2 linked regions of the Homo sapiens genome follow. The protein of the gene in region 1 interacts with the protein of each later gene in a biochemical or structural test. Each region holds a gene or a part of one and is shown in the gene's direction. Other genes may lie near its edges.

The links.
Region 2: the proteins of RNGTT (region 1) and RNMT form a complex in vitro, tested with the Homo sapiens proteins (one study listed by BioGRID).

The regions. Positions count from the first base shown.
Region 1 is NC_000006.12:88,956,478-88,972,120, reverse strand, and holds the start of RNGTT (mRNA-capping enzyme), read left to right. Parts: upstream 1-8,502; 5' UTR 8,503-8,711; coding exon 8,712-8,775; intron 8,776-15,643.
Region 2 is NC_000018.10:13,716,474-13,732,976, forward strand, and holds the start of RNMT (mRNA cap guanine-N(7) methyltransferase), read left to right. Parts: upstream 1-10,199; 5' UTR 10,200-10,256; exon of another isoform or gene 10,257-10,392; intron 10,393-14,153; 5' UTR 14,154-14,282; intron 14,283-15,002; 5' UTR 15,003-15,044; coding exon 15,045-15,461; intron 15,462-16,503. UniProt on the Homo sapiens protein: Catalytic subunit of the mRNA-capping methyltransferase RNMT:RAMAC complex that methylates the N7 position of the added guanosine to the 5'-cap structure of mRNAs. Binds RNA containing 5'-terminal GpppC.

The DNA.
Region 1 (15,643 bases):
AGGCCTTTTACCAGTTTGCATGGGGAGAGGGAGGCCACAAGCCCTACTGGTAGTAAACTTGACCCTTTTGCCAGCATGTTGGGCTTCTTCCAACATGGGTTCCCTTCTTCCAACAGGGCGTTCCCTTCCCCTGAGCCTAATCCTAAACCAACCAGTTTAAGGTTTGGGAAATTAACCTTTCCAGTTTGGAGGATGCATCTGAGGGGAGTGTCCTGTAGTACGAAGATGCAATTACCTATCTGTGAAGAGAGGACAGAGGAGGAGAGAGGAAAAAAGAAGGAGCTTTTTAAAGGAGTCTCAGGGGTTCAGGATGCATTTGAAAAAGGTACAGACTGAAGATGAATGGCTACCCATCTAAAAGAACGGGAGCAGGAGTCTCTTGTTCCCTTCTCTTCCTAGCAGATACCCCAGGTATGTGAGGGAGAGAGGGAAGAACATTCTCTTTCCCACTTCTGTCTTTGCATCCCTGCGTCCCGGTGACCTTGTCAGGTGCTGCCGTGGGTGCCAAAGTGGCTTGCACCCATGAAGCAAGGAGGGCCTAGAAAATAGGAATTATCTGATCTCACCACTGTTTCTATCCCACCTACTGTCAGTAGTCTGGAGTTCCCTAGACCTTATTTATGCCATGGATACTAGCATGATCTTTATCCATGAAACAGGAGGCTTGGCTTAATCGGCAGGAATCAGCCATGCTCACCTGTGCTGTGCCTTTAAACTTCTGTTATCGTCTGCCTCTGCATCCCTCAGATCCAGTTTTCTTTCCTAGGGCTTTAACGCAAAGCTTGGAATTGAGTTTGGGACAAAAATGTGTCTAGGGTGGGGACTGCATGAACTCCTTCTCATAAGCCAAATGCTAAGGTGAAACTGTGGAACTGAGTCCTCCTCCAACAAGGGAGAGAAAGGGATGTCTTGTGACACACCCAGATAACTGGTGGCTATAGTTATGCTTGCTTAGGATTTGGGCACATCGTGCTTGACTTTGGTTAGCTCCCTTGGTCTTACTTTCCCAAAAAGGAAACCTCTGAGTGATGGGCATCCTATTTATTCCCATCACCTGGCAGGATTTGAAGGATAATTGGTCAGAACTAGAATATTGGTCTGGATTTTTACATTACCCATCCCTCTTGTTCTTTCTGGGCTACAGCCAGAGATTGCTGGTTGGTTCACAGGAACAAGCAGGGTTAGTTTAAAATGTAGGCAAAAACTTACAGACAACTAATGAGTTTATAATTTAATGACAAATGTATGATAAGTTTTGAAGCATAATTTCTCTCTCTCCAGTCCTCATTTTTGTTAAAAAAAATTATGGTAGGACTGAGTTGTTTGCAAAATAGACTTTAGTCTTATACTTGGCCTGCATAAAGTGCAGCAAGAGTAATTATTCCTATACAGGCCTTTTGGATTGGCTTTGATAGAAATCTGTTTTACAAGGAATCTCAGAGAAGGCCTTTTAAAGCTGAGCCCAGCCTTGGGTTTGTATCCTTAAATACCTGTGAGTTGAGTGATCCTCTCCTTTTAAAGTCCTAAGATAAACTTGGAGCCCCTAGGCCTGTTAGAAAGTGACATTCTTTACTGACCACAGGTCAGGAACCCTGTACAGGGACTGCGTAGACAAGGATATGAGGCCATTTTTTTTTCCCCAAGGGGCTTTTATTGGCTCTGCAAGTTGAGACTGACTCCTGAAAGAGAAGCATACCCTTCAGTCAAAGCCTTGGTAGAATAACCAGTTTCTCCAACTGTGTCCTGTTGCAAAAGAAAAATGGATTCTTACTGCGCTGATGCAAACAACTATATTGCCATAAGTTAAGAATACTCACAGATAGTTTCCAAATTCTGGAGAAGCCAGGCAGAGAGACAAATATGCTCCAATGTTGCGGGAAGTCAGGGACCCCGAACAGAGGGACTGGCTGGAGCCGCAGTACAGGAACATAAATTGTGAAGATTTCATTTTAATATGGACATATATCGGTTCCCAAAATTAATACTTTTATAATTTCTTATGCCTGTCTTTACTTCAATCTCTGAACATAAACTGTGAAGATTTCATTTTAATATGGACATTTATCACTTCCCTAATAAAACTCTTATAATTTCTTATGCCTGTCTTACTTTAGTCTCTTATTCCTATTATCTTCATAAGCTGAGAATGTACGTCACTTCAAGACCACTATTGTGTCAAACTGTACAAATTGATTGTAAAATGTGTGTTTGAACAATATGAAATCAGTACACCTTGAAAAAGAACAGAATAACAGTGATTTTCAGGGAACAAGGGAAGACACCATAAGGTCTGACTGCCTGCTGGGTAGGGCAGAATAGAGCCATATTTTTCTTCTTGCAGAGAGCCTATAAACGGACAAGCAAGTAGGGAAGATATCGCTGAATTCTTTTCCTAGCAAGGAATATTAATAATTAAGAACCTGGGAAAGGAATACATTCCTGGTGGGAGAAGTCTATAAACAGCTGCTCTGGGAGTGTCTGTCTTATGCAGTTGAGATAAGGACTAAAATATGCCCTGGTCTCCTGCAGTACCCTCAGGCTTACTAGGATTGGGAAACCCTGCCCTGGTAAATTTGAGGTCAGACTGGTTCTCTGCTCTTGAATCCTGTTTTCTGTTGTTTAAGATATTTATCAAGACAATATGTGCACAGCTGAACATAGAACCTTATCAGGAGTTTTTGATTTTGCCCTTTGCCTTGTGGTCTTTGCTTTGCCCTTTGCCTCGTGATATTTATTGGCCTAGAAGCATATGATCTTTGTTCTCCTTTTTGCCCTTTGAAGCATGTGATCTTTGTGACCTACTCCCTGTTCATACACCCCCTCCCCTTTTGAAGTCCTTAATAAAAACCTGCTGGTTTTGCGGCTCAGGTGGGCATCATGGACCTACCGGTATGTGATGTCGCCCCTGGTGGCCCAGCTGTAAAATTCCTCTCTTTGTACTCTTTCTCTTTATTTCTCAGACTGGCCGACACTTAGGGAAAATAGAAAGCACCTTCATTGAAATACTGGGGGTGGGTTCCCCCGATACTCCAAATTTTGTTCACAGGAGTATACCTTACTCAATTATTAAAGGGTGTAAATAGTTCAAAGTAAGTTTCCTTGACTCTGAAAAATAAGGGTCAGCAATATTCTAAGCAAAAGTCAAAAAGATTGCTTCAGCTTTCTGAGTTCAGTCAATTTAGTTCTTGATTTGCTTGATATTCATGAACATTTCAGCTCTTTGTGAGTCTTGTACATTTTTCCTTTTGTTACAATCTCCAAAGTCATCAGAAATTGGTATTTGAGAGCACCTGTTAACGTTCTATAGCTCATTATAAATCATCTTTTGAAAAGGATTAAAACAAGACAACAATTGTCTGTGAATAACAAAATGTCCAGGGTAGTTACAGTTAGAAACACAATTGACAAAGAAGTTTGGTTATCTCAGACATTAGAATTTTAGAAATCCCATACAATTTTGGAACATATATTAGTATTATTCACAATAATATAACCTAAAGAAAACTGGGCCGGGTGCAGTGGCTCATGCCTGTAATCCCAGCACTTTGGGAGGCTGAGGAGGGTAGATCGCCTGAGGTCAGGAGTTCAAGACCAGCCTGGCCAAAATGGCAAAACTCTGTCTCTACTAAAATACAAAAAAATTAGCTGGGCATGGTGGTGGGTGCCTATAATCTCAGCTACTTGGGAGGCTGAGGCAGGAAAATCACTTGAACCTAGGAGGCGGAGGTTGCAGTAAGCTGAGATCGTGTCACTGCACTCCAGCCTGGTTACAGAGTGAGACTCTGTCTCAAAAAAAAAAAAAAAAAAAAAAGAAAAGAAAAAAAGAAAACTGAACATTATTTTGGCAATCCCACATACCTAAACATGTCAACTAATCCTGTTTACATTTCTCTTCTGGACACTCTAGGGTCCTTCTGGAGCCTCTGAAAAGCCAGGTGTCAGGAAAGACAATTTTGAAACTGAAGTTTGATTTTTGGGAAGCCTGTTAAATATGTTAGTGGTTTAAAACACTTGATGTTATGAAATAGAATTCCAGATTTCCATAAATTATTTATTTTGCCAAAATTACTCAGAAATTTTAAAGAAGCAAAAACTTTTTATAACCCTTTACAAATTTTGCTAAAGTGCAGATTAGTGCCTTAAGAAAACTTTGTTGTGCTTTTATTTCAATGCTCAATTTACTTTTGAATTTAGCCAATGTTCACACACAGCATTTCTTTTGCAAGATTAATTTTAACCTTCCAGAACTTGTTTAAACCTTTAGCTTTATCTTACCTAATTTAAAACAATTCCCTAACCCTAGGCAAAAATTTACATTTCCATGCCTTCCATTACCTTTTACTAAAAAACACATTTTACTGTTCTTACACACCTTGCATGTAAATCTATTTTCAGTAGTTTCAATTATACATTATAATGGTAACTCCTAGCAATTTTAACTTTAATGTAAAACCTGGTAAGTTGTTTTAATTGTGTGCCAGGTGCAGCGAAGTTTTGACTCCTTCTAGCATAATTAATGACATGGTTAGTTCCATATGTCCCCAGGCCTTATCAATTGTGAAGCCAGCAAGTCAGATAGTTCTCAAAACTCAAAAAGCAGTTTATAACATTAAAACATTTAGCAAGACTAGTACCTAACCTGCATAATTTAGTCCACCTATTTACATTTTGATGACATCTGTTTTTTACCAATAATCTTTAAGGCTGTTTTTATTTCTCAAAGATTAAAGTCACATGAACTGAAAGGTACCACATCTTTTACCTTCCCTTTAAAAAATATATGATCTAAGCACTTGTCTTCCTTTAGGCCAATTAGAGTTTTTTTTTTTTTTTTTTTTTTTTTTTGAGACAGAGTCTTGTTCTGTTGGCCAGGCTGGAGTGCAGTGGTACAATCTCAGCTCAATGCAACCTCTGCCTCCTGGGTTCAAGGGATTCTCCTGCCTCAGCCTCCCAAATAGCTGGGACTACAGGCACGTCACCACACCTGGCTAATTTTTGTATTTTTAGTAGAGACAGGGTTTCACCATGTTGGCCAAGCTGGTCTCAATCTCTTGACTCTCAAATGATCTGCCTGCCTTGGCCTCCCAAAGTGCTGGGATTACAGGCATGAGCCACCACACCTGGCCTTAGAGCTCCTTTTTTTTTTTTTTTTTTGAGATGGAGTTTTGCTCCTGCTGCCCACGCTGGAGTGCAATCTCCACCTCCCAGGTTTAAGTGATTCTCCTGCCTCAGCCTCCCAAGTAGCTGGGATTACAGGCATGTGCCACCATGCCTGGCTAATTCTGTATTTTTAGTAGAGATGGGGTTTCTCCAAGTTGGTCAGGCTGGTCTTGAACTCTCGACCTCAGGTGATCTGCCTGACTCAGCCTCCCAATGTGCTGGGATTACAGGTGTGAGCCACCGTGCCTGGCCTTTGAGCTCTTTTCATAGACATCATGTACACAACATATATATAGCTACACAGACAGGCAGAAGAAAACCAGTCCCCATAAGATCCTTTTTCACAACCAAACTTTAAGGAGAATATAAACAGGGATCCTTATCATTCCTAGCCTAGTGAAAAAGAAAAAAAACATCTGGTTTAAAAGTTAACTGTTGATGGGGTGAAGAAAAAAGGATGCCTGGGGGAATAAACCTTTTATTCTTAGGCAAATGGTTCCTCTACCAGGGAGAGAAGCTTATCAGATGGAGTTGAGCCTTGGCCAGGGAAGGGGAAGATGCTGTGGACATGTGGCATTCCCCAGCCCCAGCTGGGAGGGGAGAGGGAATGAGGAGCTGCGACTTGCCTATCCTTCCCAAAAAACGAAGGCAAAGGCCATGGAAAGGCCCCTGACCCCAGGGAGCGATGGGAGTGGGGGCATGGTTTCCCTACCCTCAGAAGTCCACGCATGAAAAGGCTTAGAAATGACAGTGAAAAGTTTTGAGTCCCCGTGTCACTCAACCGCTTCTCAAGCCCCACATTGGGTGCCAAAGCTGTTGTACGACTTTCTCCTTAGTTCAGCTAAGAGCTGGGTCCTGGTCACATGGCCATGAAATATTAGGCTCACAGATGCCTTGAAGGGTGAGAATGGAATTTATTGGGCAAAAAGAAAAAAAGGGAAACAGAGACTCTCCCCAAAGCCAGAGTGCTTCCTGCCTGGTAGACTGAATCCCAGGTTCCACCTAGGAAAAGGAGGGGCCAGGCTCCTCCCCACTGCAAATGGCGCAAATTTCCCAAGGCTCCACCACAGGGTGCATTCCTCCCAGTGCTCAGGTCAAAAGGAGATTCTGCCAAGGAATCCTTCCCACCTGGCTGTCTTACCAGCACTTTGGGAGGCTGAGGTGGGAGGGCTGCTTGCAGGAGTTCCAGACGAAAAAAGTATAAAAAAGTTAGTGGGGTGTGGGGGCCTGCACCTGTAGTCCCAGCTCCTTGGGGGCTGAGGTGAGAGGATTGCTTGAGCTTGGGAGGTTGAGGCTCCAGTAAGGCTGCCCTGATCATGCCCACTGCACTCTAGCCTGGGTGAGAAAGTGAGACCCTGTCTGCAAAAACAAAAGATTTATCTACATATCAAAGTGAAGAGGAAGGATTAATAAATATAGGTTTTTCTCAAGGAAAAGTCCTAGGAAAAGGGAAGACAGATAAGATCTCTCTCTTTTGCCAAAAGAGAACGTTCAATCTTATTTTTTACATGTACACACTCTTCCTTATGGGCAAAATGGATGTTTGATGAAAGACTCACCAATGAAGAGAATCTACATCTGATAAAGAGGAGATCAAGACATATCTGGGAGGGTGTCAGGGGTTCCAGGAAGCGGGGGAGGAATCATGTTGGTCTGTCTGTGAGCATCTATTTTTCTTCTCACAGAGTAGTAGAAACTTGGGACTAGGAGCAATATAGGCAGAAACACACATCAGGCAAGGCATTCCTGACAGGCAGAGAGAAACTGCCTGCTCATCGGGATGCCACTCTCCTACTCTACTCTCTATTGTGGACAAAAGGTAGCCACAGGGTCCTCCCAATTCTGTGGCAATGAGTATGGAGAGGGCATAACTGGATAGCAGAATAAAAATCCAGTGCACATTGCTGCCTTACAGCCAATAACAGTTGCTCGCCAGTGGTATGAAGCTTCTGTGTGCCTAGGACTGAGCTACTGGGTATAGCGTGTGTGGGAAGGGGAGTCACCAAGGGGAGTCATCCCCAGAAGGGGAAGGTAAGATACTCTTCCAGGATCAGGCTCACCTTTCCCATCCTTGGAGGGGGTCTGGGGATGGAAGGTTTTTACCACTTTGGGCATGGTACACACTCTATCAGCAGAAAAGGGAATTCATCGGAGATTATTTGGGTAGACTGATGGCCTTAAAGGAAACTGGGTATTATCTTGTTCTGTCAGGGGAGGAGTTTACACCTTCACTAACAGTTCTGAGCAGATGCAACAGCAGGACAGACCAGAAGTGTGACCTAACTCAGGCTGCCTCAGAGAGATTGCTGTTGGACTGCCTCTATTGATGGGACTCTTACTGAGGGGGTCCAGGCATTCAGGGGGTTGAGCGTCCCAGAAAGTTCCCCACCGACGCTTTAAAAATGTATTCCCTGCAGCCTTACGTTCTTGCAGTTCCAATATAGCATTGGTGTTTAAAGCCAAACTACATTATAATTGATTCGCCATCATCCAGCTTTATATTTAACACTTTAATCTGGTAACAAAGGAAAGGCTCGTTAAAGGACGGCATTTATAAAAATTTTTCAAGCACCTCTGCTTAACTCGAAGGGAAAATAAAAGGCACTGTTTATTTGGTAGGCCAAGGAGAACAACGCCACGAAGAGGTTCTCCACTGATCAATTCCTACCTTTGTCAATTATACCACATTAATTAGTAACTTTTTTTGGAGACATGGACCCTCTCAAACTCCCCAGTATGCTTTGAAACTTTGATCCAGAAATGTACAAACAAAACTCTAAGTGTTCTGGAATTAATTTCAGAAGCTTCATAGATCCTCGTAAGTACTCACCAAAAGAAAAATTCCCCATTTCTGGTACTCCAATCTCATGTCCTTAGAATTCTCCTAAGACTTGTTCCCTTGAACAACTTTCCCTAATTGCAAATCAAACCTAGATCCGGCTGGGACGCCAAGCTTGAGCTGTGGTAACGCTCAGAAGGCCTCTTTTCATCAGTAAAATAGATGCCTTAACGGAAGTGGCGGGCAATCTACGCATGGAAAGGCGCTTGGCTTCCCTCTTTTTTGGGTTTCTCTAGGTTGTCTGGATGGGAAAAAAATACACGCTTCGTCCTGCGGAGTTCGGTACGAGGGCAATTGCACATGCGCAAAGGCGAACCAGTAGCGTCCGGGCGCGTCCGTGGAGCGGGACGGGGCGGGGCGGGGCGGTGCCGAGTGGGGCGAGAGAAGGCCCGCTCCTCCCATTCGTCGCGTCCTTAACTCTTTGCTATCCTTCCGCTGAGCTTCCTCTTCTTTCCCTCTGACCTCGGAAAGGGGGCGGGGCTTTCGGGGGCGGAAGTTGCGGTGCATTGTGGGTTCTCCTGGAGCTGTGGAGTTGATCCTGAATGAAAGTGGCGCGCCGCCCCTGACGTTACCCGGATCGGAGAGGTTGGAATTCAGATTACGGCTGCGATTCGGGTGTCTCGGACCCCGGTGTGCACCGGACCACGGGGAGGCGGCTCCAAAGGCGCGGTGAACGTTGGTGAGGGAGGGCAGCTCTGCGCAGCCCCAAGACATGGCTCACAACAAGATCCCGCCGCGGTGGCTGAACTGTCCCCGGCGCGGCCAGCCGGTGGCAGGTAACCTGGACTGGGGGGCGTTCGAATCCCCACACTCCAACGTGCCCGGGGGTGGGCCGACTGAGGAGCTCAGCTTTTGGTGGTTCTGTGCCCATTAGTGGTATTTCAGGAGCGGGATATGCTCCGTCGGATTACGCTTCGTGGATGAATGGGAACATGAACGGGAGGGGATGGTCGGCGGATGGGGGGCACTTGTTACTATTCCTGCAAGGCTAACTGTGCGAATGTGAAGGTAGACAGGAGGTTGGTGGCAGGAGGTGAGGATCCAGGAATACAGTGGGCGTACTTTGAGTCTTAGTAGTTTGCGAACCTGTTAGGGTTCAACCTTCCCCTCGAAAGAAGGGATGAATATCAGTATTGAGATGGAGGAGGGTTAAGGAGGGAAGGGGCGGTTCCCAGCGGTGAAATGGGGTCACATTGAGACTGGGAATCTGGAGGGTGTTTTTGTTAGTTTTTTATTTTTATTTTCTTGTGAGACAGGGTCTCTTGCTCGGGCTGGGGATCCTCCCACCTCAGCCTCCCAAGTAGCTGGGACTACATGCTCCTGCCACCGCACCCGGCTAATTTTTTTATTTATTAAAGTATATATATATTTATAATGTATATATTTGAGACATAGTCTCTCTCTGTCGTCCAGGCTGGAGTGCAGTGGCGTGATCTCGGCTCACTGCCTCAGCCTCCCAAGTAGCTGGGATTACAGGCGCGTGCCACCACACCCGGCTAATTTTTGTTTTTAGTAGAGACAGGGTTTCATCGTGTTGACCAGGCTGGTCTCCAACGCCTGGCCTCAAGTGATCCGCCCGCCTCGGCCTCCCAAAGTGCTGGGATTACAGCCGTGAGCCACTGTGCCTGGCCATAATTTTTTTGTTTATTTTTTGTGGAGACAGGGTTTCACTGTGTTGCCCAGGCTGGTCTTGAACTCGTGGACTCAAGCGATGCTCCCACTTCGGCCTCCCAAAGTGTTGGGATTATAGGCGAGAGCCACCCCGCTTGGCCGGGTTTTTGTTTTTTTTAATTATTTTTCTTGTAGTTTTTTTCATCTTTATTGAGCTTGAATACAATAAGCTTTAAAGCGTACAGTTTGATAAATTTTGACTGTATATACACAAATATATCTCTTTCCTAGGAAACAACCATGAAACCCCTCAAAGTTTCCTCTTGCCCCTTTTTAAATCCCTCCTTCGCCTGGCAGCCACTGATCTGCTTTCTGTAATTATAGATTGGTTTGCATTTTCTAGAAATTTTTAAATAAATGGAAACATATAGTGAGTACTCTTCTTGGGGTGGAAGGAAGTGTGTGTGGCTTTTTTCACTCAGCATAATTAATTTGATACTCATCCAGATTATGCATGTATCAATAGTTTATTCCTTTTTTATTGCAGAGTAGTAGTTTATTGTTCTGGGTATACCACAATTTGTTTACCTGTTCATCTATTGATGGTCATTTGGGTTATTTCCAGTTTTTAGCTATTACAAATAAACCTGCTGTGAACATTCATGTACAATTCTTTGTGTGGACATATACTTTCATTTCTCTTGTGTAAGTCTCTAGGAGAGGAATGGCTGCATCATATGGTAGGTGTATGTTTTAAGAATTTTAAGAAACTGCCAACCTCTTTTCCAAAGTGGTAACACTTGATAGTCCCACCATCAATGTATTATACAGAAGAAATTCAAAGGACTTAAAAACTAGCAAAAAATTTGGACACTTCACAAAATAAGTTATATGAATAGCCAAAAAGCTATGATGGCGTGGTGGTATGTGCCTGTAATCCCAGCTACTCGGGAGGCCGAGGCAGGGGAATCACTTGAACCCAGGAGACGGAGGTTGCAGTGAGCTGAGATTGCACCACTGCACTCCAGCATGGGTGACAGAGTGAGACTCCATCTCAAAAAAAAAAAAAAGTAATTTGTACTTATCGTGTAATTTATTAGTAAGGGTTCTCTAGAGGGACAGAACTAATAGGAAATATATGTACATATATATATATACACACACACACATACATACACACACACACATACAGACGTAAAGGGGAGTTTATTAACTGTTAACTCACACGATCACAAGGTCCCACAATAGGTTGTCAGCAAACTGAGGAGCAAGGAGAGTCAGTCTGAGTCCCAAAATGGAAGAACTTGGAATCCAGTGTTTGAGGGCAGGAAGCGTCCACCACAGGACAAAGATGTAGGCTGGGAGGCTAAGCCGGTCAAGTCTTTTCACATTTTTCTGCCTGCTTTATATTCTAGCCATGCTGGCAGCTGATTAGATGGTGCCCACCCAGATTAAGGGTGGGTTTGCTTTTCCCAGCCCACTGATTCAAATGTTAATCTCCTTTGCAACACCCTCTACACCCAGGATCAATATTTTGCATCCTTCAATCCAATCGAGTTGACACTCAGTATTAACCATCACAGTAATTTCTTTGATATTTTGCATATTGAGGAAAATGTTATGGCTGCTCAAACTTATATGTTGTAAATGTTAGGATTCACTTTACTAGTACTAGAAGTTCATAATTTTCCTGAATCAGAAAGAAAATGGTACTAACTACATATAATTTGTTTCTCTGTGAAGTCACTTTCTCTGATGAAACCAGACTTGCAATGAGAGAGAGCTCTTGGAGACAGGGCCAAGCTTTATTTTCTGAAGAACTGTTTTTTCCTCCTTCTGAGTTAATAGATTTCAGGTGAATACTTGGAAGAAAACAAACTTATAATTTCTTTTCCTTTTTCCTTTTTTTCTTTTCTTTTCTTTTCTTTTTTGTATTTTTAGTAGAGATGGGGTTTCACCATGTTGGCCAGGCTGGTCTCCAACTGCTGACCTCGGGTGATCCGCCTGCCTTGGCCTCCCAAAGTGTTGGCATTACAGGTGTGAGCTACCGCACCCAGCCCTCCCTAGTTTCTTAAAGATATATCATTCAACATAAAATTATTTCATATCTGCTATGTAAAGAGCTTACTAGGAACTGTGGGAATGTAAATATGAGACACAGCCAGGTGCATTGGCACATACTTGTGGTCCCAGGTACTCAGGATAGTGTGATGGTGATAGTGATGGTGATTTTGAAGTCATTTTATTTAGCAAATATTTAAATGTCTACTTTGTGCTAGTCCTGGGTGCTAGGGAGATGGCTAAGATATATTACCCTTAAAAAGCAGAGTCTCATGGGAGTAGCAAACCATCCATTTTAAGCACAGTTCTGTTGTAAAAAATGTAGCAATGACTCTATTGTGGTATATGATGGGAATCAGAGGTAATAAACCTAATTCTTTGAGGTTGAGGAAGAAGAGATGGGAAGGAAGAAGGAGATCAGGTGAGACTTCCCAGAGAAGGTCATACATGAATTATCTTCAGTAAATAGAAGTTTTCTAGATAAATAGTTGGCAGGGGGTGTTATTGAAAGTTTCTGTTAGGATAGGATGATGATGGGAGAGATAATAGACTGAAAAAGTGTCTTTGTTCTGGAAGATGTAAGTGAGGTTAAGAGGTTGGAGAATAGCCTGATCATACAGGCAAGTAGGGTGTGATAAGGTATCCTAATATTTATATGCTTTAAATTTTCAGTGGCATACAATTGCAGTTTTTTTTTTCAGCATCGAGATGAGATTATTTGAATCCAAGTTAAAAGCTTACTTTGACTTTTCTGTGTTTAATGAATTGATGGAGAAAAGAGTGGAAATGGAGAGACTAATTAGGAACTTGTTGTAGTCCAGGTGAAAGACAATAGTGATAGTTTAAAAGTGACAGATGAAGAGTAGAAGGCTAATTTGAGAGATATTAAGAAGGGAAAATGGACAGAACTTGATGTCGTATTTAGAATGAGGGAAAGAGGGTCAAAATTTAGTCTCAAATGTCTGGCTTATGCACATGAGATAGTTGATATTATTAGGGCTTACTGAGAGAGAAGCAGGTTGGAGGAGATATTAAGATCCTGATTGCTCAAATAGAGATCTTTAGTAAAGATCTTTTTAAAAAACATTTTTATGTTATTTCAGTAGTTTTTGGGGGACAGGTGGTTTTTGGTTACATGGATAAGTACTTCAGTGATGATTTCTGAGATTTTGGTGCACCTGTCACTCAAGGAGTGTACACTGTAGTAGTCTTTTATCCCTCATCCCCCCTCTCCACACTTCCCCCTGAGTACCCAAAGTCCATTATATCATTGTTATGTCTTTGCATTCTCATAGCTTAGCTCCCACTTACAAGTGAGAACACAGGATATTTGGGTTTCCATTCCTGAGTTACTTCACTTAGAATGATGGGGTCCAACTCCATCTAGGTTGCCATGAATGCCATTATTTCATTCCTTTTTATGGCTGAGTAGTATTCCATGGTATATATACATATCACATTTTCTTTATCCACTCATTGGTTCTTGGGCATTTAAGCTGGTTCCACATTTTTGCAATTGCAAATTGTGCTGCTGTAAACATGCCTGTGCAAGTGGCTTTTTCAGATAATGACTTATTTTCTTCTGGGTAGATACCCAGTAGTGGGATTGCTGGATCAAATGGTAGTTCTTCTAGTTCTTCAAGGAATCACCATACTGTTTTCCCTAGTGGTTGTAATAATTTACATTCCCACCAGCAGTGTAAAAGTGTTACCTTTTCCCCACATTCATGCCAACATCTAATATTTTTTGATATTTTAATTATGGCCATTCTTGCAGGAGTAAGGTGGTATCTCATTGTAGTTTTAATTTGCATTTCCTTGATAGTGATGTTGAACATTTTTCATATGCTTCTTGGCCAACTGTATATCTTCTTTTGTCTGTTCATGTCCTTTGTCCACTTTTTGATGGGATTATTTGTTTTTTTCTTGCTCATTTGTTTCAGTTCCTTGTAGATTCTGGATATTAGTTCTTTGTCAGATGCATAGTTTGCGAAGATTTTCTCCCACTCTGTGGGTTGTCTGTTTACTCTGCTGATTATTTCTTTTGCTGTGCAGAAGCTTTTTAGTTTAATTAGGTTCCATCTATTTATTTTTGTTTTTGTTGCATTTGCTTTTGGGTTCTTGGTCACGAACTCTGCCTAAGTCAATGTCTAGAAGAGTTTTTTCCAATGTTATCTTCTAGAATTTTTATGGTTTCAGATCTTACTTAAGTTTGAGTTGATCCATCTCCAGTTGACTTTGTATAAGGTGAGAGATGAGTTTCATTCTTCTACGCGTAGCTTGTTAGTTATCCCAGGACCATTTGTTGAATAGGGTGTCCTTTCCCCACTTTATGCTTTTGTTTGCTTTGTCAAAGATCAGTTGGCTGTAAGTGTTTGGCTTTCTTTCTGGGTTCTCTATTCTGTTCCATGGGTCTGTGTGCCTATTTTTATACCAGTACTATGCTGTTTTGGTTACTATAGTCTTGTAGTATAATTTGAAGTTGGGTAATGTGATGCCTTTACATTTGTTCTTTTTTGTTTGCTTACCTTGGCTATTTGGGCTCTTTTTTGGTTCAATGAATTTTAGGATTGCTTTTTCTGGTTCTGTGAAGAATGATGATGGTACTTTGATGGGAATTGCATTGAATCTAAAGATTGCTTTTGGCAGTATGATCATTTTCATAGTATTGATTATACCCATCTATGAGCATGGGATGTGTTTCCATTTGTTTGTGTCATCTGTGATTTATTTCAGTAGTGTTTTGTAGTTTTCCTTTTAGAGATCTTTCACCTCCTTGGTTAGGTATATTCCTAAGTATTCTATTGTTATTATTTTTTTTATGCAGCTGTTGTAAAAGGGATTGAGTTCTTGATTTGATTCTCAGCTTGGCCATTGTTGGTGCATAGCAGTGCTACTGATTTGTGTACGTTGATTTTGTATCCTGAAACTTTAAAGAATTCATTTGTCAGATTTGGGAGCTTTTTGGATGAGTCTTTAGGGTTTCCTATGTATACAATCATATCATCAGTGAACAGTGACAGTGTGACTTCCTCTTTACCAATTTGGATGCCCTTTATTTCTTTCTCTTGCCTGATTGCTCTGGTGAGGACTTCCAGTACTATGTTAAATAGAAGTGGTGAAAGTAGCATCCTTGTCTTGTTCCAGTTCCCAGGGGGAATGCTTTCAACCTTTCCCCATTCAGTATAGTGTTGGTCATGTGTTTGTCATAGATGCCTTTTATTATGTTGAGGTATGGCTCTATTACCTTGAGGTACGTCCCTTCTGTGCCAGTTTTGCTGAAGGTTTTAATCATGAAGGGATACTGGATTTTGTCAAATACTTTTTCTGTATCTATTGAGATGATCATGTGATTTTTGTTTTTAATTCTGTTTATGTGACGTATCACATTTATTTTTATTTTATTTAGTTATTTTTGAGACAGAGTCTTGCTCTGTCACCCAGTCTGGAGTGCGGTGGCACCATCTCAGCTCATTGCAACCTCTGCCTCCCGGGTTCAAGTGATTCTCCTGCCTCAGCCTCCTGAGTAGCTGGGACTACCTGCCACCACGTCTGGCTAATTTTTGTATTTTTAATAGAAGCGGGGTTTCACCACGTTGGCCAGGCTGGTCTTGAACTCCTGACCTCAAATGATTCACCCACCTCGGCCTCCTGAAGTGCTGGGATTACAGGCAAGAGCCACCACGCCTGGCCAACATTTATTGACTTGTGTATGGTAAACCATCTCTGCATCTCTGGTATGAAACTCACTTGATCATGGTGTATTACCTTTTTGATATGCTTTTGGATTTGGTTAGCTGGCATTTTGTTGAGGATTTTTGCATCTATGTTCATCAGGGATATTGGTCTCTAGTTTTCTTTATTGTTATATTGTTTCCTGGTTTTGGTATTAGAGTGATACTGGCTTCATAGAATGATTTAGGGAGGATTCCCTTTCTCTGTCTTTTGGAATAGTTTCAGTAAGATTGGTAG
Region 2 (16,503 bases), on another chromosome or scaffold:
GACCTAATTCTCTCTCCTAAACTGGGGGTGAGCAAGGAAACATATGGATTCTGGGGGTTCCAGCAGCCACTCTGTAACCTTAAAGGGACATAGTTTGGCTCTGTGTCCCCACTCAAATCTCATCTCAAATTGTAATCCCCACGTGTTAAGCGATGGACCTGGTGGGAGTAATTGGATCAGGGGGCAGTTTCCCCCTTGCTGATCTCATGATAGGGAGTTCTCACGAGATCTGATGGTTTTAAAAATGGTACTCTCCCCTGTGCCCTCTCCCTGCCTCCTGTTGCTGCCTTGTGAAGAAGGTGCCTGCTTCCCCTTTGCCTTCCACTATGATTGGAAGTTTCCTGAGGCCTCTCCAGCCATGCTGAACTGTGAGTCAATTAAACCTCTTTTGTTTATAAATTACCCAGTCTCAGGTAGTATTTTTACAGCAGTGTGAGAATGGACTAACACAGGGAGCCCGCCTAAGGACAAAGCTGACATGGACAAGGCAGAGCGGGAGCTCTGAACTGAGGCACTGGAGTGTGCTCTGTTTGCGGACTTCTTGTTACTATGTCCCTCTTTATTGTTAATGCCAACTTGAATCCAGTTTCTGTTACTTGCAGCTGAAAGCAGCTTACTGATGAAGCAAGGCTGGGGTGGATAGAGAGCATCCAATCCTCTTAAGGCTCTCCAGAATGCAGGAAATACCATCTGCCCTTTCTTACATTATATGTTAATCCCCCCAAGCAATGTTTACTATATGAAGTCTTTCATACTTGAACTGATAAAGGATCATTTTGAACTAGAGATTAGTGCCCGAGATTAGTGCCACCTGTCACCTACATTCAAGTCTAAGTTCTTTGTTTGTTTTTTAGAGACAGAGTGTCACTCTGTTGCCCAGGCTAGTCTCGAACTCCTGGGCTCAAGTGATCTTCCCACCCTAGCCTCCCAAAGTGCTGGGATTACAGGTGTGACCCACTGTGCCCAGCCCAAGTCTAAGTTTTGAACTTCACCACTGCACCGCTAACTACAAAGCAGGGTTTGCAGAATTACTCGAATTCTAAAGCACTTTGGACTTACGTTGGTCAGCTGCATGACAGACTGTGAAAAGAAAGGAAAAATACAGAATGTTTAGAAATCTACTATCAAAAGTCTGCCAAAAAAATAAAGTACAGAGAAGTGAATAAGAGGAAGATACATTTTGAATTATGGATTAGAGAGCAAAAAGCATACTCCAGTGAGTCATTTGGTAACATAAAGGTTAATCAACTTGCATGAAAACTGCAAGGGCCCAATGCACCAGAATGTCAGGTTTAAAAAGCAGTCTAACAGGCTCGAGAAAAGACTTATGGTATAGTAGACTAAATGGTAGAAAAGATGGAAAGGACTTCATCTTAGCAGACTGGAGACAGAGTTTTCTGCTGGCCTCAAGGAAACAAGGTACCGTATGATGAACTGCCTACGGACAGGGCCGCATACGGGGAACAGCCTCTAGTCCCTGAGGGAAGCCACCAGTCAACAGGAAGAAGACAGCGCCCTCACTCATATAGGCACAAAAGATGAACTCTGCCTACAACCTCAATGAGTTTGCAAACAGATTCTTCCACAGTTGAACCTCCAGATGAGAATGCAGCCTGCTTGACACTTTGAGATGCTAAGCAGCAAACCAGCTAAGATGTGCCCATACTCCTGACCCAGAAAAACTGTGAGACAATAAACCTGTGTTGTTTTAAGTTGCTAAATGTGGGGGTAATTTGTTACACAGCAACAGAAAATACAAGCCTACTCTCCTTAAGAAACCTTCCCACTGCATGAGTAAGGATTATTTTTACCTTCTCAAAGTCTTTGTTACAGGGACTACAAAAATGGAAGGCCACACAGAACCTGAGTACAACTGTATAAAAGCAGCAACCTTAGGTTTAGTCATAGTTGTCTGCATTAGAACTACAGAATGTTAAGAGTTGGAAGGAAACTGAGAGGCCCCTTAGTATCATCCTTTATGTTTACAGATAAAGAATGCAAGGACATGTAATAGTTCATAACTTGTTCCTGATCACATAGCTGATTAAAGGCCAAAAAAAAAAGAAAAAAGAACTGCTAATCTAGTGAATTTCCCACATCTTCACAAATTGCTCATATGTATAAATTGTGTCTTTTCCCTGAAAATAAAGGATTGAGAGCCAAACTATATAAATTTCATTTCTATCTTCTATCATGAAAATCAGTTTTAACATAAATTTATTGTTACTAGTTAACTAAAACATGCTTAGCAATAGGAATTTACTTGATGAATAAGGACTATGTTTGTTAAACCAAAAAAAGACATATGAGAAATTATACATATATTTTACACCAAGTAAATCGCAATAGAACCTGTTTCAGCTTGGCTTTGGTGAAAAATACTAGTAACCTTCTCTGTGGGGTTAACTAGTTTTGTCAGTGTTTACTGTATCAAGCATATTTCAGAAAATGTCATTTGATCATCAGAGTACCAGAAGCCATTGTTGCAATAAAGAGCTCTTGTATTCTGGGTCCAATTTTAAAATATCTTTTTAAAAACTTGCATTTACAGTGATGAAGATGGCAAGAAAAGTAAAATAAAAATTTGCATTTAGAACTTGACATAGGTCTGCTTTATTTTATAAAGTGTGCCACACAAATAAAATTTTTCTTAACATTATATATGACATTCATTTGGCAAACACTACATTGCAAACCCATCACTGTTTATCTAATTCCTCTAATTTTAAGAAATGAGTCAAATTACAATGCAGCTTAACTAGAACAAGAATTGCAGTATTTCAGATAGCAAGGAAGAGTTACTATAATTCATGCTTACATTAAAAATCAAGAAATCCAAATAAAATACCACGTTTAATTCAATTTATCACGTCCAAGAAGTTACAAAGGCAATGTAGAAGAAGTAAGTAAAAATGGGGAAGCCCTAATTTTTAAGTCTGCCTTGAAAACAATTTTTTCTTATCAATGAGACTTTCTAATAGGACTCATCTTGCCATTGGCACCCACAAAATCTAACCACCCACCTCCACTTCTCCGGGAGGATCCCTTCCTAATGTCTGATGCCTCTTCCCTCACCTCCATTCTTTGCCCACTGCTGCACATGCTTAAAGCCCAGCCACCCTTTCACCCACAGAGGTCATAGACCACTGCTACTATGGTTAATTCTCAGAAGTAATAAACTCAGAACCTGAAAGCACATAATGCCTACAAGACTGTTCACTATTTCAAACTTCTGCTCTGGTTTACATGAATTAAAAAAAAAAAAAATCACTCTATTTTTTCTGCTGTACCAAGGCAAAAAAATTCTACAATCACATTTAAAGGCATGGACTAATGACTTCACAAGACATTGCAGTAGCAGTTTCAGTTGTGTTAAGAGAAGCTAAAAATTAGCAGGTTCTGTGCTAAGCACTGTATCATCTCATTTATTCTATAAAATCGCTCCATGAGGAAATCAAAACACAAAGTTTGGCCACTTACTCAAGGATGACATGCTTAGTAAATATAACATAACCAGGATTTGAACACATGCCATCTGCTTGTGCTCTTAACTGCTGAAATATTCTAGTCATTTTTCTAGTCAGGTTGCATAACTTGGTGGCCCACGGTTAAGCGTAGAGTTTCTATTAAGCCCAGTAGCAAGCCCAAAAGCTGTTTCTTAAAAGAGCAGTTACCTGCAAAGGATGGAAAGGCTTTGCTCCAAAATCCTAAGGTTCTACACTGTATCTCCTATAGGGCCTGCAAAAGGTTCCTAACAGCATTTCAATCTGCCACTGACATTTCAAGCACCAGAAGATCTGCTGGGTCATATGGCCTGAGTGGCAGAGCAGTTTGCACAGCAGCCTGTACCTGTTGTAGAGGCGCCTTTTGTTCTGGGATCCACTCAAAACTAGCAGTATTTTAGGTCACTCAGTAAACAACCTGAAGTAGCACACCCAAATGAGGAATTTGTCATCTCCAAAATCCAAAGAGGCCCACTAAACCTTGCTTCTCTTTTTGTTATAGGTGGGAACATGCCCTACACTACTCCAGTGGACCCCTAGAAATTTCACAGGTGGAAGGCCCCTGAATATTTGTTGGATTTCCCACCCTCTGACATGCAAATGTCATACCAGTAAGTCTAGAGTAGTTGTTTCTTCTTGCCCACCAGGTCCAATCAGCATAATGTCATCAATGTGATGGGCCAGTATGATGTTTTGTGGAAGGGAAGCACAATCAGGGTCTCTATTTGTTTGCTACAGCTGCTGTAATAGAGAACCACAAACTGAGGAGCTTACAAAACAGAAATGTACTGTCTCCAGCTCTGGGGTTAGAAGTCCAAGATCAAGGTGTCAGTAGGGTTTGTTCCTTCAAAGGGGGTGAAGAAGAATCTGTTTCATGCCTACCCCCTTGCTCCTGATGGTTTGCTGGAAATGTGTGACATTTCTTGGTGTTCCTCTACTTCAGTTTCATATGGCATTCTCCCTGTGTGAATGTCTGTGTTCAAATTCCTCCTGTTTATAAGGACACCAGTTGTGTTGGATTAGGGGCCCAGCCTACTCCAGTATGACCTCATCTTATCTAATTACATTTTTAACTACCCTATTCCCAAATAAGGTCATACCCTGAGGTACTAAGGGCTAGGAATCCAATACATAAATTTTTAGAAGACACAATTCAACTCATAACAAGATCACAGAGATCTTGTTATGACATAGTGTTGGAAAGTTGACATTCCCGAGGTAGGACAGTGAAGGTGTATTTTTGGCTTTGTTAGTTGAAAGAAAACTGCTTTTGGTGATCTTTACTAACAGATACTAAGACAAAGCACTCAGCAGATCAATAACTGCATGCCAGTTACTAGGGGATAGGTTCTCAAGTAATGAAATGACATCTGGAACAGCAGCTGCAATTAGTCACTACTCAGTTAAGTTTATGATAATCCACTGTCATTTTCCAAGATCAATCTGTTTTCTGCACAGGCCAAACAGGAGGGTTGAATGCGAATATGTCAGGAATCATCACCCCTGCATCCTTAAGTGCACTCATCTCTGCAATTCCTCCTGGAATGCGGTATTGCTTTTGGCTTACTATTATTCCAGGAAGAGGCAGCTCTAGTGGCTTCTACTTGGCCTTTCCTACCACGATCGCCCTCACTCCACAAGTCGGGGAACCAGTGTGGGGATTCTGCCAGTTGCTGAGTATGTCTATACCAGTTATGCATCCTGGAACTGGCAAAGTAACCATAGGATGAATATGGGGACCCACTGTGAGGAGAACCTGGGTTAAACTTCCATTGACCACCTAACCTCAACAAGTCCCTACTCTGAATGGCGGGCCAAAATGACACTTTGAGTGTCCTGGAATTAGTGTCAGTTCAGACTTAAGAGTTCAGTAATCTGTGAGAAGTCTAATTATTTCCTCTTCTCCAGTGCACACTTACCCTGATAAGCCATAGGTCCCTTTGGGAAACCTGAGAAAAAAATTAACGGTATAAATTCTTAGCAGCGCAATGGGGTCCTTCCTCAAAAGGATCCAGCCTCCCCTCAGTCAGGGGGTTCTGAGTCTGTAAAATGACTCAAATCTGGGAACTGATTGAGGGACCATGACTCTTTCTTTGGTAATTAAAGTAAAGCTTCCATTCACTTGACCTAGAACTCTTCTGCTTATAGAGATCAAGTCAGAATTCAGTAGACTGCCCAACGAGTTCTCTTCTAGGGACACCATGACCACCTACCCAATTAGGACCCCCAAGTCAGGCTGTTCAGATTGTTGCTTTGACTCCGCTGTCCCCCATGATGGCAACACACCTACTTACTCTTTGGTGATCACATAGCCCCTGCCATCCTAGATCCAACCATCCCTGCTGCAGCTAAGGACCCCCAGTCAGTGGCAACAGCTCCCACTGCAATCTCTGACCTGAAGAGAAAAGCAACCCCAGAGCTCTTCACGGATTCCTGAGGAAAACCGGCAATGTCTTGCAAGGTAACTACCTCAAGGGAGGTCATTACAGGTTCTTCAGGCAAAGCAGAGTTAACCTCCTCAGAGGTGGAAGAACTGCTTCTACTGGCAAAAAAGAGTGAGTCAAATTTAGGAGTTTAACATCCCCAGCTTCATCAGGATGTTCCCATATGGCCCTATTCCAAATGTGCAGATCCCATTCCTTCCCAATCAATGCCCTCATTTTAATAGCAGACCAAGGTGAGAAGGGAATTCAGTTAGCACTGTAATTCAGCCACCTACAGGATAAGACTCTGGATTTGGTTTTCACCAACCTCAGCTCTGTAGCTACAAGAGATACGGGTTTCTTTAGGGCAGACACAGAAACTTTTCAGGTCACTTATGTGGAGCTTCAATCGGGAATTTGAAGCCTTAAGCTCCCCTTTTCTTTCCTTTCTTTTTTTTTTTTTTGAGACAGTCTCACTCTGTCACTCAGGTTGGAGTGCAGTGGTGCAATCTCGGCTCACTGCAACCTCCGCCTCCTGGGTTCAAGCGATTCTCCTGCCTCAGCCTCCTGAGTAGCTGGGATCATCCTTTTCTTTTCTCACTTTACCCAGTACAGTTAAAAGCAACCAGCCTATCTTATTGTACTCATTAATTCGATTAAAATGTTCTAAGGTATCAAATACCTGATCATTCTGAATCTTGTCTATAAGCATGAGTGGGAGTATCTAATAGTGATCTTTTGCATATCTTTGTTGCCATATCACACCAGGGACTATCAGTGCCCTCTTTTCTACAGGGAATACTCATTACTGCCTTTGAATCTGATCAGTTTGGAAAACCAATTCCAGAAACACTATAATCAATTCAGAAAACTCATCCTTAAGATTCTGCTCACTAGAAGCACTCTCAGCACCCAAATTTGAATCAGTCAGGGCTCTACAGAGATACAGAACTGATAGGAAAAAATATATAGATGTAGATAAAAACATAAATATCTTCATCTACATATAGACAGATACAGAGATATTGGTATTTTAAGGAACTGGCTCACACAACTGTAGGGGATAGCAACTTCAAAATGTGTAGGGTAGATCTACAGACAGGAAACTTAGGCAGGAATTGATGCTGCAGTCTTGAGGAAAATACTGTCTTCTTCAGGACACTTCAGTTTTGGCTTTTTTAGCCTTCAATTGATTGAATGAGGTCCACCCACATTATTTAGGGTAATATCCTTTAGTTTAGGTCAACTGATTATAGATGTTAACCACGTCTTCAGAATACCATCATAGCATCAACCAAACTAGTATCTGATTAAATAACTAGGTATTATAGCCTAGCTAAGCTGACATAATAAAACTAATCATCACACACAGTATTACTCAACAAAATCTTATTTTCAACTGAAGGAAAAACCTTTTAAACAATAATATTTTATTTGTTCCAGAAAGACAATGAAATTTCAGTAGGAACACTTTCCTGAGTGGAACAGAGGAAAAGTCCTTCATCCAAAACTATTTGGAGGAACAAAGCTTCCATGAACCACCTCTCTTCACAGAACACTATCTTAGGAAACTATAACATTGTTTCTACATTTTTAAAACAATCTCTATGTTTCAAAAATATGATCTTCAACTCTACAACAGAAATCACACTTTAAAATTATACCTCTGAGAGAAGTACTCTCACTTTCTTACAAATGGGTTGAAATAAATCCTGCAGGTCCTTTCCTTGTCTTGGTGGAGCTCACATTCCAGCAAGATAACATCCTTATCTAACTATTTTCTCTCGGGACATCATAACCCAGGCATTAAGAAGTATCAAAACACTTTCTGAAAAATCTACTATTTGCTAGGCAACGTCCAGTTCTGAGTATGATCTTCTAGCCAGCACTGTTTCATTATTAGCAGAGTCTGGTCAATCAGCCAGACTGCCTGGGTCCAAATCTTGATCCCACTACTTAACAAGCTGCATGATCTTGGCCAAGTTACTTAACCCTCATCTGTAAAACAAACACTCATAACTATACCACTGGGTTCGGTTAGAATTAAACGAGTGCAAATGAATAAAGCACTAACCTTGGCACCTAAAAGGTACTCGAGTATTAGCTATTATTATTTTAATGTCCAGAAAACCAGAGATTACTCAGGCAATAATGAGGGAAAAATAACACCAATGGTAACTTTAAAATCATTTTTATCTGGCTCATTTACTTACATTAACTGCTTTCAAGAATCCTTCCCCTCTATTCTCAAATGAATTTACACAACTTCTAGTTAAGTTTTATAAAAACTGAAAAATGTAATCTCTATATATCCCATCATCGTGGAGTTTTCATAAACACATAGTTAAGAGGCTTTTAATCTAATAACTTTTTTTGTTTTGTTTAGTTTTTTTTGAGACAGTCTCGCTCTGTCGCCCAGGCTAGAGTGCAACGGCGCAATCTCGGCTCACTGCAACCTCCGCCTTCCGGGTTTAAGCGATTCTCCTGCCTCAGCCTCCTGAGTAGCTGGGATTACAGGCACGCGCCACCACGCCTGGCTAATTTTTGTATTTTTAGTAGAGACGGGGTTTCACCATGTTGGCCAGGCTGGTCTCAAACTCCTGACCTCGTGATCCAACCGCCTCGGCCTCCCAACGGCTGGGATTACAGAAGTGAGCCACTGCACCCGGTGTTTAAAAACATTAAAACATGTTTTTAAAAGTCAAAATTACACTCATTTTCTGTAAAATTACAACAGCAATTATCTCAAGAAACTTAAGCATCAGGAACAGGGAATGTAATTGCCTGGTTCTAATGCTTGTATATGCCTATAATGCATTCGATCTGTAAGACCTACACTTTTGCAGTTGTCAATATTCATGTAATGAGATTAATTCTCAACTTACCTCATTTCATATAATAACAAATACAAGCAGTCATCAGAAATTGATGGGTCATCCTTATTTGTGAAAAATAGGCCTCATTCTTGGTTCAAAGTTTGTAACCTCAAATGGGCTAATGCCCACAATTTAGAAGTGATTAGATTGGAAAGCACAACGCTGCAAATGCTGCCTTCCCCAAAGCCAGGTCTATTCATTAATATACCTGTGCCTACTGACAAGAAGGAAGGCTGGTAAAGCACATTTTCAAAGCTGTTTTAAATGGATCAATTTTGGTAAAGAGTAATTCAAGACGGATTGTAAATCTGATCAGTTTTACAACCTTGGAAGGTGGGGACTTGACGCACGACGTTAATATGCACACGCTTCAATAATCTATCCACAGGTAGTTTTGACCCTGATCTCAGGTTGAAAGTCCTCAACTATGGAGCTTTCGAGTTTCAGTACAGTAGGCGCTTTCACTCCCCAGTAGAAATCTGGGGTGATGGCCAAAAAAAGTGTGTTGTCTCCCCCAAACCACACCATGCCAAGTTCAGCCAACGCAGACTAATGCATCCTTAGGTATTTGTCAAGAAGAGGTATAGGCGGTCCCTTTTCTCAGAATCTAACAGGTAAGAATGGCCTCTTGTGGCTTCCCAAACACGGCGGTAAGGACCAGTCTGCCAGTCCCTAATAAGAAATTGCTAATTTTAAAAACCATTCCGAACGCGGGCGCTTCCGGGCCCCTCTTCAACTGGCTTCGGAAGAAGGGGGGAGAACACGGTGAAGGGTTACAGCAAAGGAGGCTGAAAAACAGTCCCAAAGCAAGATTTGCCAGGACACTGGCTCGACCCGGAAGGGCGGGGGGACCTCTCTCGGCCGCCGGGGTCTGTGGGGTCGGCGAGTGTGGACGACCCGTCTGGCAGTCGTACACTGCCACAGCCCGAAGAGCGGCGCACGCGGAGCAGTTGCCGGGTTCGCGCCGCGAGTCAGCTCCCGGACACACGCCCAGGGTTGAAGGTGCCCTCTAGACCCCTCCCGCTGCCCCACAGAGGCCTGGGCCCATGCTACCTCTTAGGACGCTGGAGCCGCCGCCGCCGCTTCCCGCCGCGCAGGCTGGACCACAGCTCCTCGGATGCCACGGCGGTGTCACTCAGCAGAGCAGCCCGACAAAGCGTGGGTCCGCGTGCAGGAACCCGCCGGGCTCAGCCGGACGCTAGCCCCCTGCCGCCCCCGGCCCCGCCAGCCGCGCCCACTAGCAACGTGCTCGCGACCTCCAGTGCCCGCTCAGTGAAGCTTCTGCATGCCGCGCGCGGCACGTCGGGACTCGTAGTTCCGGCGCGGAGGACGTGCGTCGCGGCACTCTCGCCTGACCGTCTCCACGTGACTCTCGCACCTCCGGAAGTGACGTAAGCAGACACGCGTGGCGCGGGCCGCCGTTTCCGCAAACAGAATCGCGTTTGGCTGTGCTGGTGAGTGTGACGGCTGGAACTCCGGCCCTTCCTTTCTTTGTGTTTGTCCCTCGGCCGCCGTGGAGGGGTGGAACTGGCACTCCCACCCCTGACATGGGCTCACTTCGCATTAGCCCTGTGCTTCACTACCCAACGCGTGGGTCTATTGCCTTGTGTCCTCAGTCCCAAGGAAAATGGGAACTCCTTGGGGTGGGCGGGCGCTGTTCCTCCTCCAGACTGGGCGAGCCCGGGTGGGAGAAGCAGCTCGAAGAGCTGCTCCAGCTCGCGCCCCAGGGCCGTGCTGGGGAGGGGCGTGGGGTCCGCAGGTTTGTCTTCAGCGGCGCTTCGGAAACCTGAACCAGAGGTTGAGTAACAGGCCGCGCTAATGACGGAGGGGGTGAACTTGGCTGGAGAAGTCCCTTCTCGCCTCTGTGCGTCCTCTCGGGCCCCGTGGTAGAGGGTCAAGCGGGCGGGTCGGGACTTAGAGCTTATCCCGCTTGGGCTTTATCCCGGCGGCCCTGGCGGCCTGCTCGCTCGTACCCTGAGGAGCTGAAATGACGCAGAGACATAGCTTGCTTCGGAGGTGTGACTGGAAAGCCGGGTCGAAATGTTCGTGTGGTTATTTATCGCGTGTCCATCTCCATGTCAGTCGACCACCTTTCGAAGGTTTCTTGAAGATTCTGAGGGACAGCTCTCTTCCCTATGGAGTGTTTTCATTATTCCACTTTGAGTTTGGTTTGGGTTTTTTTTCCCCCAATTTGTTAAATTGATACATAGAAGTTGCACATATTTGCAGGTGCAGGTGATACTTTGATACATGCATACAATGTGTAACGACTAAATCAGGGCAATTGGGATATTTGTCATCTCAAACATTTATCTTTATGTTGGGAACATTCCAATTTTTCTTTTAGCTATTTTGAACTACACAATAAGTTATTGTTAACTGTGTCCACCCCACTGTACTATCAGGCACTAGATTTTATTTCTTCTGGGGTTTTTTGTACCCATTAACCAATTTCTCTTCTTCATCCCGCTCCTCTTCCTGCTACCCTTCCCAGTCTGTGGTAACCACCAATCCACTCTTTACCTCCATCAGGTCCACATTTTTAGCTCCCACATGAGTAACAACATGATATTGTCTTCATGTGCCTGGCTTATTTCAGTTAACATAATGACATCCGGTTTCATCCATGTTGTTGCAAATGACAGGATTTCATTCTTTTTAATGACTAATATTCCATTGTGTATATATGCTACATTATCTTTATTCATCTGTTGATGAACGCTTAGGTTGATTCCATATCTTGACTATTGTGAATAAACTTGAGACTGCAGATATTTCTTAGATATACTGATTTCCCTTCTTTTGGATCTGTACCCAGATTTGCAAAACTGTTCATCGGACAGGGGATTAACAACCAGAATATAGAAGAAACTCATCTCAATAGCACTAGTTCTATTTTTTGTTTTTTGAAGAACCTCCATCATACTTTTCCCAGTATGTAAATTAGTGGCTGTGCTAATTTACGTTCTCCCTAACAGTGTACAAGTGTTCCCCCTTTTCTGCATCCTGCATCCTCATCAGCATCTTTTTTTTTTTTTTTTTTTTTTTTTTTTTTTGTGTGTGTGTGTGTGTGTGTGTGTGACGGAGCCTTGCTCTGTCGCCCAGGCCGGAGTGCAGTGGCTTGATCTCAGCTCACTGCAACCTCCACCTCCCGGGTTCAAGCGATTCTCATGCCTCAGCCTCCCGAGTAGCTGGGATTACAGGCGCACATCACCATGCCCGGCTGATTTTTGTGTTTTTGGTAGAGACGGGGTTTCACTATGTTGGCCAGGCTGGTCTAGAACTCCTGACCTCAAGTGATCTGCCCACCTCCACCTCCCAAAGTGCTGGGATTACAGGTGTGAGCCACCGTGACGGCCTCAGCATCCATTTTTTAAAAATCTTTTTGATAAAAGCCGTTTTAACCGAGATGAGATGGTATCTCATTGTGGTTTTGACTTGCATTTCCCTGATATTACTGATATTGAGCATTTTTTACGTATATACCTGTTGGCCATTTGTGTGTCTTTTAAGAAATGTCTATTCAGATCTTTTGCCCATTTGTAGTAGGATTGCTTCTTTTTTTTTGCTATTGAGTTGAGTTTCTTCTGTATTCCGGTTGTGAATCCCGTCAGATGAATGGTTTTGCAGATATTTTCTCCCATTCTCTAGGTTATCTCTTCACTCTTGTTTCCTTTGCTGTGCAGAAGTTTTTTAGCTTGATGTAATCCCATTTGTCTGTTTTTGCTTTTGTTGCCTGTGCTTTTGAGGTCTTACCACAAAAATCTTTGCCCAGACCAGTGTCTTGAAGCATTTCCACAATGTTTTCTTCAAGTAGTTTCATACTTTTGGGTATTAAATTTTTCAGTCCATTTTGATTTGATTTTTGCATATGGTGAGAGAGAGTGGTCTAGATTTCCCAGCACCGTTTTTTGAAGAGACTGTCTTTTCACTATGTACGTTCTTGGCACCTTTGTTGAGAACAAGTTGGCTGTAAACATGATGCTTGGTTTTAAACGTTCTTACTTATTTTTGTGGTCATCTGGAATGCTGTGTCATTTCTTCTGACCTAATTATGTTTTTATTATGTCACATCTGTGATATCATGAAAGTGACATAAGTAAAATTCATGCTTAAATCTCAATATTAATTTTAGGTAATAAATATAGCTAAAGATAAGTCACATTTCTTTATTTGAATTTAAAGCCAATTTCCATTAGGAAATCAATGGCAGAGGAGGAGAAATAGGAATTTGATAAGTTGGTATCCAGTTTTTCTAGATAATCATTTTAAGTATTTGTTCTGAAAATCACTTTTCTGATTTGTTGTTGTTGTTCTCTGATTCAGTTCTATTTGGTACTTCTTGGTATTTTGTTACCTCAAATGGTGGGTCATGAAAACTAATAACCATTGAAACCCTTACCCATTCATAGTGAGTGACTTGTTACCCATTCCTTTAAGCAACTTGATTTCTTATTCTTTTTCATTATCCAAAAGGCTTTTTATTTATTTACTTTTTTTTTTAAGCACAAACACTTCCTTCATGAAAAAGCTTTTTTTTTTTAAGTGGGGTCTCACTTTGTTGTCTAGGCTGGAGTACAGTGGCACAATCATGGCTCACTGCAGCCTGGACCTCCTGGGCTCAGGTGATCCTCCTACTTCAGCCTGCTGAGTAACTGGGACTAAGGCATGTGCCACCATGCCCAGCTATTTTTTGTAGAGACGGGATTTTGCCATGTTGCCCAACCTGGTCTCGAACTCCAGAGCTCAAGCAGTCTGCCCACCTCGTTCCCCCAAAGTGGTGGGATTACAGGTGTGAGCCACTGTGCCCAGCGAAAGCTTAACATTTTAATAGTGGTATATAAGCTATAAACATCTTGAAAACATGATTTACATTGAGCTTCTCCATAGTAGGAGGTCACTAAATTTGTTGAATGGCTTAATAAATGAACCACCATAATTCTTGCCCAATAGATAGTTCAGTTATTTCTCTCGCTTTCCCATCTTAATGTAGGTCTAAAAACATATTTGAAAGAGACTTAATGGTCATCAAACTGCAGGCTGAGTCCTGAAACTTGTCTAAAGCCATTTCTACTCTCTTCACTTTCTACCTAATTGGAACACCCATTATGAAATACGATTTCAGAATTCTTGCTGTAGAATCCCAAACTTTTTCTGTTCTTGATGCCCTTAGTGTCCATAGGCCAAAAGAAATATAACAGTTCCATTTATTAAGTAGTTTACCCCAAAGAATTTAAAAGTATTTATGGTCTAACAACTTTATGTCTGTTTAAAAAATTAACACACATAAATTGGGGGGAAAGGTAATGTTTCTGTTTTATTCTTGATTAATCACAATCCCTTACTAACAGGATGTGTGAACCTATTGGGTACTGTACAACTTCAAGCCTCGAAATCAGATAGGCACCACCAACCTCATTTCCTGTTTCACCTTGATTTTCTGTGATACCAAAATCTCAGCTTCACAAAGTCATTGAAAGGTATGTAGTGTAATCTATTCAGCTGGAACTGTGCTGTACTTAAAGCTGGTAGTTTCTGTGATATCTTCCACATTAGGTTCTGTGGTGCCTGTTTGTTATGGTGCCAACCATGCAGTTTGGGAACCAGGGTTATAGAGTAAGGATCAGAACCAAAATGGAACTAGTGCATGTGTATCGCCACTTCATTTGTCAGCTTTAATGCCAACAGTGACTTTTATGAATAAGATTATAGAATTTTGGGGGGATTATAATTAGTACTGCCATATTCAGAAATTCATACATAGTATCAGTTAACATTTTTTAATATGCTCTCTACAATGAGATTTTTTTAAACTCCTAGTTGATCAAATTCTAGTTAAAATTATTTTAGGCCAGGCGCAGTGGCTTACGCCTGTAATCCCAGCACTTTGGGAGGCCAAGGCAGGCGGATCACCTGGGGTCAGGAGTTAGAGACCAGCCTGCCCAACGTGGGGAAATCGCGTCTCAGCTAAACATACAAAAAATTAGCCAGGCGTGGTGGCAGGTGCCTGTAATCCCAGCTACTGGGGAGGCTGAGGCGGGAGAATCACTTGAACCCCAGAGGCGGAGCTTGCAGTGAGCCGAGATCATGCCATTGCACTCCAGCCTGGGCGACAAGAGTGAAACTCCGTCTCAAAAAAAAAAAAAATTGTTTTAAAGTCTTAGTGTTTACAAGTAATACCAATTTTTTTCCTATTCTAGTGTTGGTTCATGAAGTTTTACCATCAATTCAAGTAATCATAAATGGCAAATTCTGCAAAAGCAGAAGAATATGAAAAGATGTCTCTTGAACAGGCAAAAGCGTCAGTGAATTCTGAAACAGAGTCTTCATTCAATATTAATGAAAACACAACAGCTTCTGGGACTGGGCTTTCTGAAAAGACTTCTGTCTGTAGGCAAGTAGACATAGCAAGAAAGAGAAAAGAGTTTGAAGATGATCTTGTAAAGGAAAGTTCTAGTTGTGGGAAAGACACTCCATCCAAGAAGAGAAAACTTGATCCTGAAATTGTCCCAGAGGAAAAAGATTGTGGTGATGCTGAAGGCAATTCAAAGAAAAGAAAAAGAGAAACTGAGGATGTTCCAAAAGATAAATCTTCTACTGGAGATGGCACTCAAAATAAGAGAAAAATAGCACTTGAGGATGTTCCTGAAAAGCAGAAAGTATGTTCAGTGTATTTTCATTTATTCATAATAGAATATGTAAGTTTGAAATGTGGAACACCCGTGGATTCATACTGGTTTTTACATAATAGCTTAAGAATGTTCTATTTTTAATAGATATGGTCCTAAGACAAAGTAGGCTTTTAACTCTTATGATTTCTGTTAAGGTGAAACATCTCCTGCTAATGAGATAGATTTTTTAGTTTTTGTTTGTTTTTATTTTCTAATGAGATAATGTTTATCTTATTTTAGAATATTTAACTAGAAACTTTTTTTTCCGAGACAGAGTCTTGCACTGTCGCCCAGGCTGGAGTGTGATGGTGTAATCAAAGCTCACTGCAGCCACAACCTCCTGGGCATAAGCAGTCCTCCGGCGTTTTTAAAAAGACTAGAGTATGAGATCCAAATGATTTACCTATTTTTCTTTTTTATTAGGTGTTCAGCTCTAGTTTTTTTGTCAGAGGTTATCACTTAAAGGGATAACTTTTAAAATTATACCTAGCTTTACATCCCTTTATTAATGTAATTCCTTAAACAGTTTTCAGCTTCTTATTAATGTATTTTACATACTGTTTTAGTTAAGTGAATGCAAATGCCTAATATTTAGCAAAGATATTATAGGGCAAGTTGTTTTCATCTGGAAGTACCACATTAGAAAGGAATTTGAGGCAGAATCTGGAGTTAGAGGAAAAGATTACTTTAATGAGTAAATAAAATTCTGCCATTGGCCCTTATGAGGAAAGTGACTGATAGTGAGGCTTTTGTCATCAATGGAATGTGAATTCTTGTAACAGAGGGGAGCCCCCCCTTTTTTTTTTTTTTTTTTTTGGAGACAGAGTCTCACTCTGTCTCCTAGGCTAGAGTGCAGTGGTGTAAACTCGGCTCACTGCAACCTCCACCTCCCGGGACCTCCACCTCCCGGGTTCAAGCGATTCTCCTGCCTCAGCCTCCCGAGTAGCTGGGACTACAGGTGCCCACCACCATGCCTGGCTAATTTTTGTGTTTTTTAGTACAGATGGGATTTCACCATATTGGCCAGGCT